Linked DNA regions of Homo sapiens: all the other regions are linked to region 2. The links come from fine-mapping of genetic effects on gene expression. A gene starts in region 2. Each other region holds a variant in brackets. All regions are shown on one strand. Distances are from middle to middle. Region 1 overlaps HIP1 (huntingtin interacting protein 1). Region 2 holds the start of YWHAG (tyrosine 3-monooxygenase/tryptophan 5-monooxygenase activation protein gamma). Region 3 has its middle 3.3 kb from the start of SSC4D. Region 4 overlaps SSC4D (scavenger receptor cysteine rich family member with 4 domains).

The links. PIP is the estimated chance that this variant, and not a neighbour inherited with it, causes the effect.
Region 1: its variant is fine-mapped to the expression of YWHAG in caudate (GTEx, PIP 0.98).
Region 3: its variant is fine-mapped to the expression of YWHAG in whole blood (INTERVAL, PIP 0.98).
Region 4: its variant is fine-mapped to the expression of YWHAG in whole blood (INTERVAL, PIP above 0.99).

What each region holds. Positions count from the first base shown.
Region 1 is chr7:75,601,262-75,606,679 of GRCh38, reverse strand. The region is part of intron 1 of HIP1 (huntingtin interacting protein 1); the gene reads left to right. Among named protein-coding and RNA genes, the nearest start is that of SPDYE5, 110 kb to the right of the region's middle. RefSeq lists an enhancer at 2,806-3,756. The variant G/A (reference allele first, on the strand shown) is at 2,713.
Region 2 is chr7:76,357,059-76,362,058 of GRCh38, reverse strand. YWHAG (tyrosine 3-monooxygenase/tryptophan 5-monooxygenase activation protein gamma) reads left to right here and starts at 3,068. Exons shown (of 2, transcript NM_012479.4): 1 at 3,068-3,337. The coding sequence starts at 3,251. It also overlaps the pseudogene PPIAP81. RefSeq lists silencers at 2,734-3,143, 3,464-3,663, 3,747-3,937 and an enhancer at 2,993-3,639.
Region 3 is chr7:76,410,281-76,415,698 of GRCh38, reverse strand. It overlaps a transcript of ZP3 not described here. Among named protein-coding and RNA genes, the nearest start is that of SSC4D, 3.3 kb to the right of the region's middle. The variant AG/G (reference allele first, on the strand shown) is at 2,093.
Region 4 is chr7:76,399,060-76,404,477 of GRCh38, reverse strand. It overlaps SSC4D (scavenger receptor cysteine rich family member with 4 domains), which reads left to right. Exons shown (of 11, transcript NM_080744.2): 2 at 1-171; 3 at 3,435-3,470; 4 at 3,887-4,192. The coding sequence starts at 39. It also overlaps a transcript of ZP3 not described here. Among named protein-coding and RNA genes, the nearest start is that of SSC4D, 7.9 kb to the left of the region's middle. The variant T/AT (reference allele first, on the strand shown) is at 2,296.

The sequences.
Region 1 (5,418 bases), 760 kb after region 2:
GTTCCTTCGGGTCCTTTTCTTACAGTGTCTCCCCAGCTTGTGGCCCTTGCTGCTATCCTCCCCTCATCTAGGTCCAGAGCCTCTGCATCATCTTTTTTTTTTTTGAGACGGAGTCTCACTCTGTCGCCCAGGCAGGAGTACAATGGCGGGATCTCGGCTCACTGCAACCTGCACCTCCCGTGTTCAAGCAATTCTGCCTCAGCCTCCCAAGTAGCTGGGATTATAGGCATGAGCCACCACACTCAGCTAATTTTTGTATTTTAGTAGAGATGGGGTTTCACCATGTTGGCTAGGCTGGTCTTGAACTCCTGGTCTCAGGTGATCTGCCCCCCTCGGCCTCCTAAAGTCTCTGCATCATCTTGGAGGCACCATGGATGCATCCTTCTGCTGTCTCCCTGTAACCCGGAGCTCCTATCTGCCAGTCCTACTGAAGCTCGTTTTACAGCTCACATTATATTGGGTCATTTCCATTCTCACATCTTTCATTTTGATTCCATTTTTCCTGTACTTTTATGCTATTAAATAGCTTCTGGCTGGGCATGGTGTCTCACACCTATAAGCCCAGCACTTTAGGAGGTTGAAGCAATAGGATTGCTTGAGGCCAGGAGTTCAAGACCAGCCTGGGCAACATAATGAGACCCCGTCTCTATTTAAAAAAACCAACTAGCCAGGCATAGTGGTATGTGCCTGTGGTCCCAGCTACTCAGGAAGCTGAGGTGGGAGGATTGCCTGAACCCAGGAGGTTGAGGCTATAGTAAGCTATGATTGCACCACTGCACTCCAGCCTGGGTGACAGAGCAAGACCCTGTCTCCAAAAAATAATAATAATTGATTAAATAAAAATACAGCCAGGCGCGGTAGCTCACGCCTCTAATCCCAACACTGGGAGGCCAAGGCAGGGGGATCACCTCAGGACAGGAGTTTGAGAACAGCCTGGCCAACATGGCAAAACCCTGTCTCTACTAAAAATACAAAAATTAGCCAGGCGTGGTAATGTGCAACTATTATAATCCCAGCTACTTCGGAGGCTGAGACAGGAGAATCACTCGAACCCAGGAGGTGGAGGTTGCAGTGAGCCAAGATTGCGCCATTGCACTTCAGCCTGGGCGACAGGGCAAGACTCCGTCTCAAAACAACAACAACAACAAAAATAGCTTCCTCCCTGAATTCTCACCTCCAGGCTCCATCCAGCTCTACCCCAGCTGCCGCCACTGCTGGCCCATTCCCCTCCACCTGCTGTCATCTCTTCTTGCCACTCAGAAGCCCACTGGCCTCCCACACGCAGCCTCACCTGCCTCCTGGCTTCTCCTCCATCCCCCCCGGCCCTCAGGCTGCATGCTCCATGCCCTTCCACTTTGGTGCCTTTACTTGTGGCACTTCCTCTGCCCAGAAGGCCTGTCATCTGTGTCCAGAACCCCAGACCCAGTCCCCTGCAGGCCCGAACCCCTCCACAGTACAGAGCGGGTGCTGGTTCAGGGCTTGGAACCAAAGAGCATGACCTTGGGTGAGTTTCTCCACCTTTCTGAACAACAGCCCTCCAGACCCCAGAGTTCCTATGAGGCATATATGACAGAAGTGGGTAATGGCTGGGACAGTAGCTGGGCCGAGTTATCCCTCCTTTCCCTTTAAGAAGTCTTCCTTGAGCAGTGTCTCAGTTTAAAAGGTTTCTCTCTCCTTTCAACACTACAGCACAGAACTTTCCTGATTCTCAGCTATACACACACACTCAGTGGATCCATAGTCACAAACTCACGGTATATTATTTTACGTGGCTTATGGGAATTTTAAAGATTTTAAAAATTTGTTACTATAAGATTTTTGCGTGTGTGTGTGAGCAAGGTTCATAATGACCACAAGTTTGAGCAATTGGTCAAGCAGTAGGAACAGTTATTTTTAGGGTAAATCTAAATCTCACCCATCATGGGTCCTCCCTAGAGGCCCTGAAGCAGTTTCTACCATTTTTCTTCCCTCCCTCCCTCCCTTCCTTCCTTCCTTCCTTCTTCCTTCTTTTCTAAGACAAGGTCTTGCTCTGTCATTCAGACGAGCATAGTGATGCAATCTCAGCTCACTGCAGCCTCCAATGCCTGGATCGCTCAAGTAATCCTCCCACCTCAGTCTCCAGAGTAGCTGGGAATACAGGCGCATGCCACCATACCCAGCTAATATTTTGTAGGGATGAGGTCTCACTATGTTGCCCAGGCTGGTCTTGAACTCCTGTCCTGAAGTGATCTTCCCACCTGAGTCTCCTAAGGTACTGGGATTACAGGCATGAGCCACCACATCCAGCCCCATTTCTAGCATTTCCAACTACCTGGTGTGGTCCTCTTCCTCACGGCCCATATTCCTTACAGGCCTTCCCAAACCCCCTGGAACTTAACCATGTCCAGGTCAGCATCTTACAGATTTGGGTTTCTTGTCCTTCTATGTGTTTATATGCCTTGTAAGTCCTTTCTGACTGCAGACAACCTTGATGGGCTCCGGAAGTATGGAGACTTTGCCCAGGGGTCTGTCTGCAGCCAGAATTTTGCCATTGTCATGGTGCCCCAGCCTATGTCATGGTGCCCCTGGCCTATGGTGCCAGGGGAAGAACATAGTTTAAACGGCTGTAATGCACTTGAGGAAATGTACAGGGAAGACAGTGCTTGGGACAGTTCTGTCACTGAGGACTAAGGTCCAGGGAAGGACGTGCTAAGAGGAAGCTGTAAGCACTGC[G/A]TCTCCATAGGAGAGAAGTACTGCTTCATGGAGAGGTTTAGGGGAATGAACTTTTCACTTCTTACTTGCATCTTTTTTTTTTTCCTTTTTTTTGAGACAGGGTTTTTGCTCTGTTGCCCAGGCTGGAATGCAGTGGGGGCGATCACGGCTCACTGCAACCTCTGCCTGCTGGGCTTAAGCGATCCTCCCACCTCAACCTCCCTAGTAGCTGGGACTACAGTTGTGCACCACCACACCTGGCTAATTTTTGTATTTTTTGTAGAGACAGGGTTTCACCATGTTGTCCGGGCTGATCTCAAAATCCTGGCCTTAAGCGATCCTCCCACCTCAGCTTCCCAAAGTGCTGGCCAGAGATTCCTTCCTGACTGCTCTTACGCTCACCCTGCAGAGCCAACGACTGTGCTCAGGAGAGCCCCAAATCATGTGCTGTAGGGGAAGCATCGCATGTCATTCTTGTCCTCCCAGAGGACCCCATCTGATGGGGAAAGGACCCTGTAATTAGTTTCCTGGGGCTGTCAACAAATTCCCACTAATTGGGTGGCTGCATTCTCTCACCGTCTTGCAAGGTAGGGCAATACTGTCTCTGAAAGCTCTAGGAAAGGCTCCATTTTTTTTTTTTTTTTTGAGAGTCTCGCTCTGTCACCCAGGCTGGAGTGCAGTGGCGTGATTACTGCTTACTGCACTCTCAACCTCCTGGGCTTAAGCAATCCACCTGCCTCAACCTCCCTAATAGCTAGGACTACAGGCACACACCACCACACCCAGCTAATTTTTGTATTTTTTAGTAGAGACACGGTTTCGCTGTGTTGGCCAGGCTGGTCTTGAACTCCTGACCTCAGGTGATCCTCCCGCCTCTGCCTCTCAAAGTGCTGGGATGACAGGTGTGAGTCACTGCGCCCGGCCGGGAAGGATTCTTTCTAGCTTCTCGTGGCCGCTGGCTGTCCTTGGCATTCCTTGGCTTGTAGACTCATCACTCATCTCTGTCTCATTTCATGCAGCATCCTCCCTGTGTGTCTCTGGATCCCTACATCTTCTTCGAGGATCACCAGTCATATTACATTCCATAATATGACCCTACTCCAGTGTGACCTCATCTTAACTAATTACATCTGCAAATGCCCTATTTGTAAATAAGATCATATTCATAGGTACGGGGTGGGGGGGGTTGGGCGTGATTATATATTTTTGTGGGGCGGGGGTATACAATTCAACTTACAACAGAGGTTATACTGTTTAAAAATCAAGTCTGGTCAGGAGAAGAAAATATATAAGGAGATATGAATTTAAGAACATATTCATTAGCTGGGCGTGGTGGCAGGCGCCTGTAGTCCCAGCTACTCGGGAGGCTGAGGTGAGAGAATCGCTTGAACTCAGGAGGCAGAGGTTGCAGTGAGCCGAGGTCACGCCACTGCACTCCAGCCTGGTGACAGAGCGAGACTCCGTCTCAAAAAAAAAAAAAAAAAAAAAAAAAAAGAGCATATCTGAGAATTTAGAAAAACAGCAGCTGGATGTGGCAGTGTGCAGCTATAGTCCCAGCTACTTGAGAGGCTGAGGTAGGAGGATCACTGGAATCCAAGTGTTCAAGTCCCGCCAGCCTGGGCAACATAGCAAGACAGCGAAACCCTATCTCTTTTGAAAAAAAAAAAAAAAAAAAAAAAAAAAAAGCTGGCCAGGTGCTGTGGCTCACGCCTGTAATCCCAGCACTTTGTGAGGCCGAGGCGGGTGGATCACTTGAGGTCAGGAGTTCGAGACCAGGATGGTCAACATAGCGAAACCCTGTCTCTACTAAAAATATAAAAATTAGCCAGGCATGGTGGCATGCGCCTGTAGTCCCAGCTACTTGGGAGGCTGAGGCAGGAGAATCGCTTGAACCCAGGAGGCGGAGTTTGCAGTGAGCTGAGATCATGCCACTGCACTCCAGCCTGGGCAACAGAGTGAGACTCTGTCTAAACAGAAAAAAAAAAAAAAAGTTTTTATTTCCAAAGGATAGATTCCTAGGAGTGAGATTACTGGGTCAAAGTTTTTTTTTTTAACCTTTCATTATAGAAAAGTTCAAACGTATACAAATATGAAGACTAGTCCAAGAAGCCCTGGTATAGCCCCAGCATCAACAAGGAACTTGTGGCCAAACATATATCCTATGGACAAGGGGTCAGCATTTTCTGCAAAGAGCCAGTTAGTAAATATTTTAGGCTTTGCAGGCCGCATGGTCTCCATCGCAACCATTCAACTCTGCCTTTGTAATGCAGAAGCAGCCTCAGCTGATATTAAATGAATACGTAAATGCATGAGAGTGGGTGAATTCTAATAAGATTTCTTTTCTTTCTTTCTTTCTTTTTCTTTTTTTTTTTGTTGTTGTTGTTGAGAGTTTTGTTGTCGCTGAGAGCTCTCTCAGCCAGGCTGGAGTGCAATTGTGGAATCTCGGCTCACTGCAACCTCTGCCTCCCAGGTTCAAGCAATTCTCCTGCCTCAGCCTCCCGAGTAGCAAGTAGCTGGGATTACAGGCGCCCGTCACCACGCCCAGCTAATTTTTGTATTTTTAGTAGAGATGGGGTTTCACCATGTTGGCCAGGCTGGTCTCAAACTCCTGACCTCAGGTGATCCACCCACCTTGGCCTCCCAAAGTGCTGGGATTACAGGCATGAGCCACTGTGCCCGGCCATAAGCTTTATTTTCAAAACCAGGTGTTAGTCTGGTCTGGTTGTG
Region 2 (5,000 bases):
TAGCGCTCCATGGCCTCCACAATATTCATGCTCGCTTTCACCTTGCCAAAGACCTCCATGCTGGCCATCTAACCACTTAGTCTTGGCAGTGCAGATGAAAAACTGGGAAGCATTTGTGTTGGGTCCAACATCTGCCATGGGCAAGATGCCAGGATCTGTATGCTTCAGGATGAGGTTCTCTTCATCGAATTTCTCCCCATAGATGGACTTGCCACCAGTGCCATTATGGTGTGTAAAGTTACCACCCTGACACATAATCCCTGGAGTAATTCTGTGAAAGTAGGAACCCTTGCCGGGCGTAATGGCTCACACCTGTAATCCCAGCACTTTGGGAGGCTGAGGCGGATGGATCATGAGGTCAGGAGTTCGAGACCAGCCTAACATGGTGAAACACCGTCTCTACTAAAAATACAAAAATTAGCTGGGCGTGGTGGTGCGCGCCTGTAATCCCAGCTACTTAGAAGGCTGAGGCAGGAGAATCGCTTGAACCCGGGAGGCAGAGGTTGCAGTGAGCCAAGACTGCACCACTGCACTCCAGCCTGGGCTACAGAGCGAGACTCTGTCTCAAAAAAAAAAAAAGAAAAAGAAAAGAAAAAAAAAGAGAGAGTAGGAACCCTTATAACCAAATCCTTTCTCTCCAGTGCTCAGAGAACGAAAGTTTTCTGCTGTCTTTACAACACTGTCTGCTAACAGCTCCGATATGTTAACATGGCTTTACAGTTTAGATGAGAGGTCACTTCTTTTTTTTTTTTTTTTTTTGAGACGGAGTCTTTTTCTGTCTCCCAGGCTGGAGTGCACTGGCACAATCTCGGCTCACTGCAAGCTCCGGAGAGGTCACTTGGCTTCTTGGTTTCCATGCCCCTAACCTTGAAGGAGACGCAGCCCAAGGGCTCAATAGTAATGTCAAAGAACACGGTGGGATTGACCATGGCCAGTAGTAGAGTACTCCTGGCAGCAGCAGAGTCTGCAAAGCTCACTTTTTTTTTGTTTTGTTTTTTGATATGGAGTTTCGCTCTTGTTGCCCAGGCTGAAGTGCAATGAAACGATCTCGGCTCACTGCAACCTCCACCTCCCAGGTTCAAGCAATTCTCCTGCCTCAGCCTCCCAAGTAGCTGGGATTACAGGTGCCCACCACCACACCCAGCTAATTTTTGTATTTTTAGTTGAGATGGGGTTTTGCTACGTTAGCCAGGCTGGTCTCGAACTCCTGACCTCAGATGATCCACCCGCTTCGGCCTCCCAAAGTGTTGGGATTACAGGTGTGAGTCACCGTGCCAGGCCAAAGCTCACTTCTTTTTTTTTTTCGAGACGGAGTCTCGCTCTGTCACCCATGCTGGAGTGCAGTAGAGGGATCTCAGCTCACTGCAACCTCCGACTCCCGGGTTCAAGTGATTCTCCTGCCTCAGCCTCCCGAGTAGCTGGGATAACAGGTGGGCACCACCACGCCCAGCTAGTTCTTTTGTATTTTTTGTAGAGACAGGGTTTCACCATGTTGGCCAGGATGGTCTCGATCTCCTGACCTTGTCATCCGCCCGCCTCGGTCTCCCAAAGTGCTGGGATTACAGGTGTGAGTCACCGTGCCCAGCCTTTAAAAAACTTTTTATTTTATTATTTGTTTTTGAAACGGAGTCTTGCTCTGTCGCCAGACTGGAGTGCAGTGGCGCAATCTCAGCTCACTGCAACCTCAAAACTCACTCCTTACTGACTTCTAGCATACTGTACATATCTCACCTATTTTCTTGGGCAGGGATTTTTGTCTGTTTTGTTCACTACTGTACCTCGTGGCTTAGAATAGGGCTTGGAACACAGTAGCTTCTCATAGATAATTGTTGAATACATAAAGTAAATAAAATGTGCAGTCAAAACTATCAGGCCTGCAGGCATGGTGGCTCACATCTGTAATCCCAGCACCTTGGGAGGCCGAGGCGTGAGGATCGCTTGAGCCCAGGAGTTCGAGACCAGCATGGGCAACAAAGCTAGACCCCCGTCTCTACAAAAAAGCAAAACAAAGCAAAAAAACCCATGCTATCTGCAAGCTATGTGGAATAATATGAACGAGAATATATCAGCGTGACCTCAGTAGGTATGTATGTCTTAGGAGGGGAGAGAAGGGCTGGACAACCAAGCCCTAGACGCAGCCCAGTTAGATGTGGAGTAGGCTCCTGGTAGCTGAACTCAATCTTTAGCACTCCACCCTGGAGAGGAAGAAGGGGTTCTCCAGGGTCAGCCAGCAGACAGCTGCATCCTTTCTGGAAATCAACCACTGTGGCCAGCCGGTATTTGTCGTTCGTCCATGTTTTCACCTATTCAGGCCCAAGAGCCTCAAGGTGGGGTGGGGGGTTTAATGGAAGCTCGTAGGGGGTGGAGGTGACAGTCCCCAGGGTCTGGCCCCTTAATTCGGCCATCCCGCGGGCAGGCACCACACTGAGAGTCTGGATCTACAATGGACGCGCCTCCTGTCCTTCCCCCACCACGACCTGCTACGTGATCTCGGAAACAGGGTCTAGGACTGAGGCCCCTGCCCCCTCCTCTCGTAATTTCCCGGAGAATATGGGGCGGGGCGGTGAATCAGCACTCGCAGGGACTGATGCAGCCCTGATCCCCGCCAGGGGTCCCCAGCGGCCTCGGGATTCGAAGCACCCCCCCCCGTCCTCCTGCGCCTGCGCGCTATGTCCGCTGGGAGTTGTAGTCTTGACCGCCCCTTTGTCCTTGGTCTCCTCAGCGCCTCAGTGCACTGCAGGTTACACTACAACTCCCAGGGGCCCATGCGTCCGAGGGCTGGCGGGGCGGGAGGCTCAAGGGGGAGGCGTAAGGGGGCGACTGGAGAAGCTGGGGTGAGGGAACTGGGGAGTGAAGTGAAAAAAGGGGAGAGTGGGGGCGCAGTGGGAAAGGACGGGGTGCCCGGAAGACGCGCAGTGAGCCCAGCTGGGGAGCGGGGAGTTCTAGCCGCGGCCGGGCTCGGGCGGGGCATGGGCGGGGCTTGCGGACGGGTGGGCGGGGCCTGCCTTCGTCATGCGGCGTGGGCGGGGCCGCAGGGGGTTGTCCGTCAGTGGCACGCACAGCAGCCGCAGCCGCCTCGCGCCCGGTCCCGCGGTCGCAGCTCCAGCCGCCTCCTCCGCGCAGCCGCCGCCTCAGCTGCTCGCTCTGTGGGTCGGTCCTCTCCGGCACTTGGGCTCCAGTCGCGCCCTCCAAGCCCTTCAGGCCGCCCCAGTGTCCTCCTCCTTCTCCGGCCAGACCCAGCCCCGCGAAGATGGTGGACCGCGAGCAACTGGTGCAGAAAGCCCGGCTGGCCGAGCAGGCGGAGCGCTACGACGACATGGCCGCGGCCATGAAGAACGTGAGTGTCTCCTCCCCTCCCCCGCCGCTCCCTGCCCCTCCGAAGACGCGGTCCTTGGCGTGGAAGGCCCGGGGCTTCGTCGCCCTGTCGCGATGGCGGGTTGACCGCCCCGTCTCGCTCACTGAGGGGGGCTGGGGAGGGTCCCGAGAGGCGACGGGAACCCGGGCTGTGACGCGGCCTCTTTTCGGAGTCCCCGTGGCCCCGCGGCGCTGCCATTCAGGCCCGGCGCGGGCGCGGGCCGGGGCGAGGTCCCGCGGGGCTGGACTTGGGAGCGGGGTCTCCGGCCCCCGCGGCTCTAGGGGTGCAGGGGACCCGAGCGGGGAGGCGTGCGCATCCTTTGTGCCCCACTTCCCCCCTCCTCCTAGCCTGGGCGTGGGGGCGGGGGACCGCATGGATGCGGTTCCTCTTTCTCTCCCTGGTGTCTGGGCGGCGCCTTTCCCATTCACTCAGCAGGTCTCCCGGTTTTCCACCTCCCCAGCCCCCCCAGAATCTTCCCCACTGTCTGTCCCGACACATCCCTGAGAATCTTCCCAGAAACATTGTATAGGGTCTCTTGAAAACCTGAGCTCCGTGGTGCAAAATCGAAACCACCTTGCTCACGTTTTTCTTAACAAAAGGCTCTTCTTTCTCCATTCGCCCAAAGCAAGTCCTCCGGCTTTTAGGAAGGGAGAACGTTTGTCTCGCTAGCGTTTTCATTGATCATTCTCAACATGTCATCTCCATTTTATTCCCTAATGTTTTTGTATTGAAAAGGGTAGGTATTGCCTGTAAAATTAAAAGGTGGTGAATGTAGCTGACTGGTTCGATTCGTGTGACATATGCCGTTTCTTTTTTGAATACAGGCACGCGTCTGTTGAAATTCCTATAAGTTGGGGGAAAAAATATTCTGTCTGATCTGATAGTGCAAACAAAGCCGTGGTGAGAGGCAGTATCAAGTCATTCCAGAAGATTCTGCATTTGTCATATTGCAGAGAGCCTAGACTGGGTGGAGGCTGGGAGGAGTTATTTTAAAGGGGAAAAAGTCTTTTTAAAAATTTTTGGTTGTTAGATGCATCTGAGGCTTTTTTTTGTTTAAGCGAGTACATCTTCATGCTGATGAAAAGAGAATACCGATCGCCAGTTGTCGCATTTTGTCTGGGTTGCAGATTCATCCCTGTATTGCACCATTTTGTCAGTAACACCACATTTATCTAATGGGCTGTCAACCAGTTTGATATTAGAGGAGGGGGAAGTATTGAGCATTATGAAATGAAAGGTAGAAAATTAATCTAATGATTTCGGGCCCCCACTATCTTAATATTTAATTTCCTGCCTTATGTAACAAAGATTTTCAAATTCATCTCCATTGTGAAGTGGATGCTGGAGTGTACCTTGCGTGTTACATCTTTTAAATGAAGCATTATTGATATTACAGATCAATTCTTGAATAAATTTACTGGTTCTCAAAAGAGGACAATGCTGATACCTTTATATTTAAAGCAGCTATGTTAACAAAGAAAGGTTTTTGTCTTATTGAAGAGAACTGATTCTGAAATTCGGAATACTGCTGTGGCCACAGTTGCTGTCTTACAAGGTTTTAATGCTTAAATGATGTAAGTTGCACTTCTAATAGGTATCAGTATTGGAAATATCTTCAGTTCGTGTTATTTAGACTCTTATAATT
Region 3 (5,418 bases), 53 kb before region 2:
ATGGTGAAACCCCATCTCTACTAAAAATACAAAAATAATTAGCCGGTTGTGGTGGCGGATGCCTGTAGTCCCAGCTACTTGGGAGGCTGAGGCAGGAGAATGGCGTGAACCTGGGAGGCAGAGGTTGCAGTGAGCCGAGACTGTGCCACTGCACTCCAGCCTGGGTGACAAAGCGAGACTCTGTCTCAAAAAAAATAAATAAATAAAAAATAAAATAAAATCTAAAATAAGAATCAAATCCACTCCCGCCACCCCCAGCCATTGGTAACAGTTGTCATAGTTGTCATAGTTAATAGTTTGTGCTGAATCATTCCAGACCTTTTTTTTTTTTTTTGAGACGGAGTCTCACTCTATCGCCAGGCTGAAGTGCAGTGGCGCGATCTCGGCTCACTGAAACCTCCGCTCCCCGGGTTCCAAGGATTCTCCTGCCTCAGCTTCCCAAGTAGCTGGGACTACAGGCATGTGCCACCACACCTGGCTAATTTAGCAGAGACAGGGTTTCACCATGTTGGCCAGGCTGGTCTTGAATTCCTGACCTCACGTGATCCGCCCACCTCGGCCTTCCAAAGTGCTGGGATTACAGGCATGAGCCACCGCGCTGGGCCTCGTTCCAGACCTTTTAATGCCTATATCGTAATTGTAAAATGTGCTTACTAAATGCAATGTGGTATCCTGGATTGGCTCCTGGAACAGAAAAAGGACATTAGTGAGAAAACTGGTAATACTCATTGAAATAAAATCTGTAGTTTGGTTAATATTAATGTGCCAATGTTAATTTCTCAGTTTTGACAAATGTACCATGGCTGCATAAGATTTGGAGTTGTGCTGGTTACTGTGGCACTCATCTTGCATCTGTAGTGCCAGCTACTTGGGAGGCTGAGGCAGAAGAATCACTTGAACTCAGGAGGCGCAGGTGGGGCGGTGAGCCGAGATCACAGCATTGCACTCCAGCCTGGGTGACAGAGCAAGACTCCGTCTCAAAAAAAAAAAAAAAAAAAAAAAGGAGGAGGAGGAGGGGAAGGGGAAGGGGAAAGGGAAGGGGTAGAAGCAGAGTCTGTTCCTGCATGAGAAGGTCTTTTCCTAACTGTCCTAAATGGAATCATCAGCACTTGAGTGTTACTGACCTCCCAGGAGCGGAAGCGTTGAAGAAGCACACATTCCGTAATAGGCAAACTCAGAGAGAATCCATTTACAGACCATAGGCAGATTTTCCCACTCTCCAGTCATGCCAGGCTGCTCCCAAAGGGTCTTTGAGGAGGAAAATCAGTGAACCAACCGCCTAGGCACCTGCAGCTTCTCATGTCAGGAAAAACCACTTGTCAGAATCCATTTATCACACCTTGAGGTGGTGACTTAGAGAGGTACTAAAATTTTTTGCTTTCAAATACAAATATTAATATGGGGCTGGGTGCAGTGGCTCACACCTGTAATCCCAGCACTTTGGGACGCTAAGGCAGGCGGACCGCTTGAGGCCAGGAGTTCAAGACCAGCCTGGGCAACATGGCAAAACCACATCTCTACTAAAAGTACAAAAATTAGCCAGGTGTGGTGGCACACACCTGTAATCCCAGCTACTTGGGAGGCTGAGGCATGAGAATCACTTGAACCCAGGAGGTGGAGGTTGCAGCGAGCTGAGATCACGCCACTGCACTCCAGCCTGGGTGACAGAGGAAGACTCTGTCTCAAAAAAAAAAAAAAAAGAAGAAGAAGGAAAGAAAGAAAAATCAGCATGGGCCAGATGAGGTGGCTCATGCCTATAATCCCAGCACTTTGGGAGGCTGAGGCAGGAGGATTGCTTCAGCCCAAGAGTTTGAAGCCAGCCTGGGCAACATAGTGAGACTTTGTCTCTTCAAAAAATACAATAATTAGCTGGGCATGGTGGCGCACGCCTGTAGTCCCAGCTACTCGGGGAACTGAGGTGGGAGGATTACTTCAACCTCAGAGTTCGCAACTGCAATGAGCTATGATCACGCCACTACACTCCACCCTGGGCAACAGGGAGAACTTGTCTCAAAAAATAAATGAATAAATAAAATTAAAATATTAGTCTGTTTTGTTGTTGTAAATCAATTGAGGCTTTTTTTTAAAAAAA[AG/G]TTTTATTTTGAAATCATTATAGATTCACAGGAAGTGGTGGCTGGGCATGGTGGCTCAAGCCTGTAATCCCAGCACTTTGGGAAGCCAAGGTGGGAGGATTGCTTGAGCTGAAGAGTTTGAGACTAGCCTGGCCAACATGGCAAAACCCTGACTCTACTAAAAAAAAATACAGAAATTAGCAAGTTGTGGTGGCATGCGCCTGTAGTCCCAGCTACGCAGGAAGCTGAGAGGCTGAGGCGGAAGGATCGCTTGAGCCCAAGAGGTTGAGGCTGCAGTAAGTTGTGATCACAGCATTTCACTCCATACTGGGCAACAAAGCAAGACCCTGTCTCAAAAAAAGAAGAGGCCAGGCACAGCGGCTCACACCTGTAATCCCAGCACTTTGGGAGGCCGAGTTGGGGAGGCCATGAGGTCAGGAGTTCAAGACCAGCCTGGCCAACATGATGAAACCCCGTCTCTACTAAAAATAGAACAATTAGCTGGGCGCAGTGGCACGCGCCTGTAGTCCCAGCTACTTGGGAGGCTGAAGGAGGAGAATCGTTTGAACCCAGGAGGCACAGGTTGCAGTGAACCGAGATCACATCATTGCACTCCAGCCTGGGCAACAGAGAAAGACTCCGTCTCAAAAAAAAAAAAAAAGAAGAAGAAGAAGAAGACAAAGAAGAAAGAAAAGAAAAGAAAGGAATGTATAGGGATGTGTGGTTACCCTTCACCCTAGCTTCCTCAATGTTTACATCTTTTTTTTTTTTCTTTCTGAGACGGAGTTTTGCTCTTGTTGCCCAGGCTGGAGTGCAATGGCGCGATCTCAGCTCACTGCAACTTCCGCCTCCCGGGTTCAAGCGATTCTCCTGCGTCAGCCTCCCGAGTAGCTGGGATTACAGGCATGCGCCACCACCCCTGGCTAATTTTGTATTTTTAGTAGAGATGGGGTTTCTCCATGTTGGTCAGGCTGGTCTCAAACTCCCGACCTCAGGTGATCTGCCTGCCTCGACCTCCCAAAGTGCTGGGATTATAGGCGTGAGCCACTGCGCCCAGCAATGTTTACATCTTCCATAAAATTATAATACCAAAACCAAGAACATGACATGATACAAGGTGTGTGTATAGTTCTGTTATTTTATCATATACAATTAAGATACAAAACTATTTCATCATCATAAATACCCCTTTGTACTACCTCTTTGTAATCACACCCACTCTTGCCCTCCACAATCCTTAAACCTAAACATTACTAATCTGTTTTTCACCTGTGCAATTTCATCATTTTGAAGATGTTTTATAAACGGAATCATACAATGTGTGAGCTTTAAGACTAGCTTTTTTTACTCATTATAATGCCCTTGGGATCCATCCAAATTGTTGCATACATCAACAGTTATTCCTTTTTTATCTTTTTCTTTTCTTTTTTTTTTTTTTTGAGACAGAGTCTCACTCTGTCCCCCAGGCTGGAGTGCAGTGACGCAAGCACAGCTCACTGCAGCCTCAACTTCTTGGGCTCAAGTGATCCTCCCACCTCAGCCTCTCGTGTAGCTGGGTCCACAAGAATCACCATGCCTGGCTAATTATTTTATTTTTGTAGAGTTGGAGTCTCACTGTGTTTCCCAGGATGGTCTCAAATTCCTGGGCTCAAGTGATCCTCCTGCCACAGCCTCCTGGGTAGCTGAGACTACAGGCACACGCCACCTCACCCAGCTAAAGGAAATTTTGAATGCTTCCTGTTTTTGGCTATTACAAATAAAACTGCTATGAGCATTCACATACTGGTTTTTTTTGTGAAGATGTAAGTTTTCATTTCTCTTGGATAAATGCCCAGGAGTACAATTGCTAGTTCATATGGTGAATGTACATTTAGATTTTTAAGACACTGTCAGACTATATTTCAGAGTATCTGGACCATTTTACATTCCCATCAGCAATGTGTGAGGAACCCAGTTTCTCCATATCCTCACTAGCATTTGATATCACCAACTATTTTTTTTTCAACCATTCTCATAGGTGGGTGGCAATAACTCATCATCGTTCTTTTTTTTTCCCCTAAAACAGGGTCTCTCTCTGTCACCCAGGCTGGAGTGCAGTGGCACAATCATAGCTCACTGCAGGCTCAACCTCCCAGGCTCAAGTCATCCTCCCACCTCAGCCTTGCAAGTAACTGACTACAGCCCAGTGCGCACCATCATGCCCGGCTATGTTTCTAATTTTTTATAGAGATGGGGTCTCCCTATGTTGCCCAGGCTGGTCTTGAGCTCTTGGTCTCAAGCGATCCTCCTGCCTTTGCTTCCGGAAGTGTTGGGATTACAGGCATGAGCCACTACTCCTGGCCACTGTTTGCTTTAATGGGAAAGACGAGAGCTTGCTTAGGAACCGAAAAATCTGATTGGGAAGGAGCAGCTGAACATGGAAGACAGATAGATGTGCAGATGGAGGGAAAGAGGTCCCTGAGATGACGGAAGGAATGGAATCTGGACTTCAGGGAAGGGGCTTCCCCAGGCCAGGGGAGGAGGGAGGGAGGAAGGACAGGTGCGGGCAGCAGGGGCGTGGAGATTTTGCAGCATGGTGATGGCAGCCTTCCATCAAGTATTTTCTTTTCTTTTTTTTTTTTTTTTTTCTTTTGAGATGGAGTCTTGCTCTGTTGCCCAGGCTGGAGTGCAGTGGTGCGATCTCAGCTCACTGCAACCTCCACCTCCCGGGTTCAGGCGATTCTCCCACCTCAGCCTCTCGAGTAGCTGGGATTACAGGCACCCGCCACCACACCTGACTAATTTTTGTATTTTTAGTAGAGACGGGGTTTCACCATGTCAGCCAGGCTGGTCTCGAACTCCTGACCTCAAGTGATCTGCCCACCTCAGCCTCCCAAAGTGCTGGGATTACAGGTATGAGCCACCTCGCCTGGTACATCTAGTACTTTCTTTTTCCAAGAAATAGGAAACAGCATCATGACCAGGAGTCAGGAAATTAAGTCCTGCCGGGCCCACACTCATGCCACCTGTTTTCCTCCCTTGGCCTCAGTCTTCCCAGCCTCACCATAAAAAGCTGGGACTGGTCCCCAATTTGTTTGATCCTCAGGAGCTTCTCAACATTTTTTTTTTTTGGCCAGTGCAGTGGCTCATGCCTGTAATCCCAACACTTTGGAAGGCTGAGGCAGGAGAATCCCTTGAACTCGGGGAGACGGACGTTGCTGTGAGCTGAGATCACACCATTGCACTCCAGCCTGGGCAACAAGAGCGAAACTCCATCTCAAAAAAAAAAAAAAGAACTACACAAGAAGGCAAAATTAGGCTGGGTGCGGTGGCTCACACCTGTAAACCCAGCACTTTGGGAGGCCGA
Region 4 (5,418 bases), 42 kb before region 2:
CCTTGATGGGAGCATCTGAAACACCCTTCACCATCTAGATGCACAAGGAAGCAGAGATGCTAATTGGTCCCCAGCTGGATGAGAAGCGCTGGGGGTGGAGGTTGGGAGATGGGAGTGCTGCCCCTCCCTTCCTCCCCCAAGCCCTGTCTTTCCTTCTCCTCCTGCCACTGGGTGAGTCCTCCCCTGTTAGCCCTTGCCACTTCCTCTTTCTGAATCTCAGTTGTCCCAGCTGTAACTTTATAGTAGGAGGAGGGTTGTGAATGAGCTCGTTCCTGTTGTTCTTTCCAATGCTGACCTTTGCCCAGAGTTGACAAAAGAGCTAAGAGTCTGAGTTTGGGGAATGAAGGGCTCAGTACTGGAGGTGACAGGTAAACGCACCCATGGAATGGGCAGTTAGGGGACACTGGGCACAGGGAAGGACAGAAAGAGGGTGTGCTCACCAATGGCTGTTGGAAAGACAGCTGGTAAAAGAGATGAAATCAAATGACCTAGGGACTATCCAAACATAAGAAGAAGGCCGGGCTCGGTGACTCACACCTGCAATCCCAGTACTTTGGGAGGCCAAGGCGGAAAGATCACCTGAGATCAGGAGTTTGAGACCAGCCTGGCCAACATGGTGAAACCCGCGTCCCTACTAAAAATACAAAAATTAACCAGGCTTGGCAGCACGCACCTGTAATCCCAGCTACTCAGGAGGCTGAGGCAGGAGAATCACTTGAACCTGGGAAGTGGAGGTTGCAGTGAGCCAAGATCACGCCACTGCACTCCAGCCTGGGTGACAGAGCGAGACTCTGTCTCAAAAAGAAATAAAGATAAATAAATAAATAAGAATAAGTTGAATCAGCCAGGCACGGTGGCTGTCGCCTGTAATCCCAGCACTTTGGGAGGCTGAGGAGGGCGGATCATGAGGTCAGGAGTTCAGGACCAGCCCGGCCAACATGGTGAAACCCCGTCTCTACTAAAAATACAAAAAATAGCTGGGCATGGTGGCGGGCGCCTGTAATCCCAGCTACTCAGGAGGCTGAGGCAGGAGAATTGTTTGAACCCAGGAGGTGGAGGTTGCAGTGAGCTGAGATTGCGCCATTGCACTCCAGCCTGAGTGACAGGGCGAGACTCTGTCTCAAAAAAAAGAAGTGGAGTCTCAGTTTCTTCATCAGTAAAATGCGTACACAAGTACAGGCTGCAGGGGGTGGTTATAAGGAAAGTGTCAGAACTGTCATACTCGGACCACAAGTGAGGAATTATTTTCCGGCTTTCCATTTTGCCTGGTAGGCAAATTTCACTTCCCTGTTTCCTCTCCCACCTCCACTCTCAAGCATCGTGCTCAGAACTGCATGATGAAGAAGAGTGTGGCTGTCTGGGTAGTCTCTCAGCTCTACCCTTGATTTGCTACGTGGCCCTGAGTAAGTTGTCTAATCTCACTAACCCTGAAGTTGCCCTGTCTGTAAAATCCTGCCTAACTTATAAATTATCCTAATGATTAACTGAGTTCGCCTAAAGAAACCAATGAAGGCCGGGTGCAGTGGCTCACGCCTGTAATCCCAGCACTCTGGGAGGCTGAGGCGGATGGATCACCTGAGGTCGGGAGTTTGAGACCAGCCTGACCAACATGCAGAAACCCCATCTCTACTAAAAATACAAAATTAGCCAGGCATGGTGGTATGCCTGTAATCCCAGCTACTTGGGAGGTTGAGGCAGGAGAATCACTTGAACCCAGGAGGGGGAGGTTGCGGTGAGCAAAGATGGCACCATTGCACTCTAGCCTGGGCAACAAGAGCGAAATTCCGTCTCAAGAAAAACAAAAAAGAAAAAAAGAAAGCAATGAGGACATACATGATGGCTGAAGCAGAAAGACTCAAGGCCAGGCAAGGTGGCTCACACCTGTAATTCTAGCACTTTGGGAGGCTGAGACGGGAGGATCACTTGAGGCCAAGAGTTCGAGACCAGCCTGGGCAACAAAGTGAGACCCCTGTCTCTACAAAAAATTAAAAAATTAGGCCAGGAGCGGTGGCTCATGCCTGTAATCCTAGCACTTTGGGAGGCTGAGGCAGGCGGATCACTTGAGGTTAAGGGTTCAAGACTAGCCTGGCCAACATGGTGAGACCCCATTTCTACCTAAAAAATATAAAAATTAGCTGGGTGTGGCGGTGTGCGCCTGCAGTCCCAATTACTCGGGAGGCTGAGGTGGGAGAATCACTTGAACCCAGGAGGCAGAGGCTGCAGTGAGATGAGATCATGCCACTGTGCTCCAGCCTGAATGGAGTAAGACTCTGTCTCAAAAAAAAAAAAAAAAAA[T/AT]AGCTGGGCAGGGTGGCAGGAGCTTGTCCCAGCTATTCTGGAGGCTGAGGCGGGAGGATGGATTGAACTCCGGTATTGGAGGGTGCAGTGAGCTATGATCATGTCACTGCACTCCAGGCTGGGTGACAGACTGAGACACTGTCTTAAAAAGAAGAAGAAGAAGAAGAATGAAGTAGAAGGACTCATCTAGGTAAATCTTTAGGGAGGGAAATATGATGAATCCCAAAGCCAATTTACACATTTAAGGTGGAGCTACTGAACATCTGCTGAGTACCAGGTTCTGAGCGGAGAGTCTGGGGACACAGAGTTGAGACAGGCATGGCCACATTACCAGAGAAGGCCCTGAAAGAGGCCTGGGTATGTGGTGTCCAGGAATTCAGAGGAAACAGAGAGCACTTCTAGCTGAGGGCTCCAGGATGGCTTCCCAGAGGAAGGGGCTCCAAGCTGGGAATTGAAAAAAGCTCTTGCCTAGGTGTGTTGGCTCACACCTATAATCCCAGCACTTTAGCAGGCCAAAGTGGGTGGATTACCTGAGGTCAGGAGTTCAAGACCAGCCTGGCCAACATGGCGAAACCCCATCTCTACTAAAAATACAAAAATTAGCTGGACTTGGTGGTGTGCACCTGTAATCCCAGCTACTCGGGAGGCTGAGGCAGAAGAATCGCTTGAACCCCAGAGGAAGAGGCTGCAGTGAGCTGAGATCGTGCCATTGCACTCCAGCCTGGGTGACAAGAGTGAGACTTTGTCTCAAAAAAAGAAAAGAAAAGAAAAAAGGCGAGGCTGGTCAGAATGGTTAGAAGATTCTAGAAGGTTTTGTAGTGAAAGCTCAGGAGCTGAGACTCCTGTAGGTAACAGGGGTCATTATGGGATTTAGCATTAGTTTGAGATGTGCAGATCTACAGATTTACACCCGCAGATCTCTCTAGGTTGGCCCAGGGACCACTAGGAGAGGGGTGAGGCAGGGAAGCCAATCAGGACAGTCAGAGAAAGAGACAATGGGGCTTTGGCAAAGCAGGGGTACTGAAGTCCAAGAAGATGGGGGTAATGTTGAGGACTGTGGGAGTTGGGGGGTGTGTTCCTGGGACCAGGGAGCCATGGTGTGGGCAGAGGGGCCAATGCTCTTCCTCACTCTGTTTCAGCCAGCGCCCTACAGCCCACTCCACTGCCCTTTCAAGGTAGGTGCCCCACCCCGCCCTTCCTCACCCTCACCTGTCCGCCAGGTACTCCAGCCTCAGACAGGGAACCACAGGAAGTGATGACTAACCAGCCCCCCTTGACTCTAGATGCCCCCATCTCAGGGGAGCTGTAGTCTCCCCATTTTCCAGAAGGGATTGATCCCAAGGTTCCCATGGCTTCATGGCAAAGCGGGTAACCTGGCTGGGTCCCGTAGTGCACGTCTGTGATCCTAGCGCTTTGGGAGGCCAAGGCAGGAGGATCACTTGAGCCCAGGAGTTTGAGACCAGCCTTGGCAACATAGTGAGACCCCGTCTCTACCAAAAAAAATAATAATAAAATAAAAGGACATCCTGGAGTGGGCATGCTGGAGGTTGGACTCAGTGACCCCCTGGTGCCAGCTCCACCCTCTTCACAGAGCTGAGGCTGGTGGGGGGCCCCAGCCGCTGCCGGGGCCGCCTGGAAGTCATGCACGGTGGCTCCTGGGGCAGCGTCTGTGATGACGACTGGGACGTGGTGGACGCCAACGTAGTGTGTCGCCAGCTGGGCTGTGGCCTGGCACTGCCCGTGCCACGGCCCCTTGCCTTTGGCCAAGGCCGAGGCCCCATCCTGCTGGACAACGTGGAGTGCCGCGGGCAGGAAGCTGCGCTGAGCGAGTGCGGCAGCCGCGGCTGGGGCGTCCACAATTGCTTTCACTACGAGGATGTGGCTGTCCTGTGTGATGGTGAGTGGAGCCCTGGGACCTGGAGGGACAGACAGACTGTGGCAGGCAGCAGGGCTGTAGGCTAGATAAATGAAGGGACTTCCCACAGGTAAGGCTGTTCCATGCAGATCAGGCCAGAGGCTACAATGCCTGGTGCCAGGGAAGAACCCCAGCCTGGGTCCCAGGGATTCTTCTGGGTCATTGCCTGACCCTGACCTTGGACCAAAAGAAAACCAGCACTACTGCTTCTATGTAAGGCTTTGATTGTCCCAGCAGAGCCCCTCTCCCTTTAAAAAAAATTTTTTTAGAGATTTTGGAGATGAGGTCTCACTGTTTGGTCCCGACCAGAGTGCAGTGGTGTGATCATAGCCCACTGCAGCCTCAAACTCCTGGGCTCAAGGGATTCTCCCGCCTCAGTAGCTGGAACTACAGGTCCAAGTCACCCCACTGGTTCCCCTCTCCTAGTTTTAAAACCAGACAATCAGCCGGGCATGGTGGTTTATGCCAGTAACTCCAGCACTTTGGGAGGCCAAGGTGGCAAGATTGCTTGAGCCCAGGAGTTTGAGACCATCTTGGGAACATAGTACCTTATCTCTACGAAAAATCAGAAAAATTAGCAAGGTGTTGGGGGCGGTCCCAGCTACTTGGGAGGCAGAGGAGGGAGGATCGCTGGAGTCTGGGGGGGTCAAGGCTGCAGTGAGCCGTGATTGTGACACTGCACTCCAGCCTGGGTGACAGAGCAAGATCCTGTCTCGAAAAACAAAGAAAAAAACGACTATTGGGGTCACACTGGCCATGCGCTCCACGTGGCATAGAGCTGCAGCGGAAACTGAGAGCAGTGCTTCTAGTTTTCAAGAAAATCAGGGGGTCTCATGAAAACACAGATTGAGGCCCAATCCCAGAGTTTCTGATTCTGCAGGTCTGGATGGGGCCTGAGAATCTGCATCGCTAACAGTTCCCAAGGGAGGTGAACTGCTTTAAGAACTGTGCTTCAGGCTGGGCACGGTGGCTCATGCCTGTAATTCCAGCACTTTGGGAAGCCGAGGCAGGTGTATCACCTGAGGTCAGGAGTTCAAGACCAGCCTGACCAACATGGTGAAACCCCATCTCTACTAAAAATACAAAAAATTAGCTGGGCATGGTGGCAGGCACCTGTAATCCCAGCTACTCAGGAGGCTGAGGCAGGCAAATTGCTTTAACCAGGGAGGCGGAGGTTGCAGCAAGCTGAGATTGCACCATTGCACTCC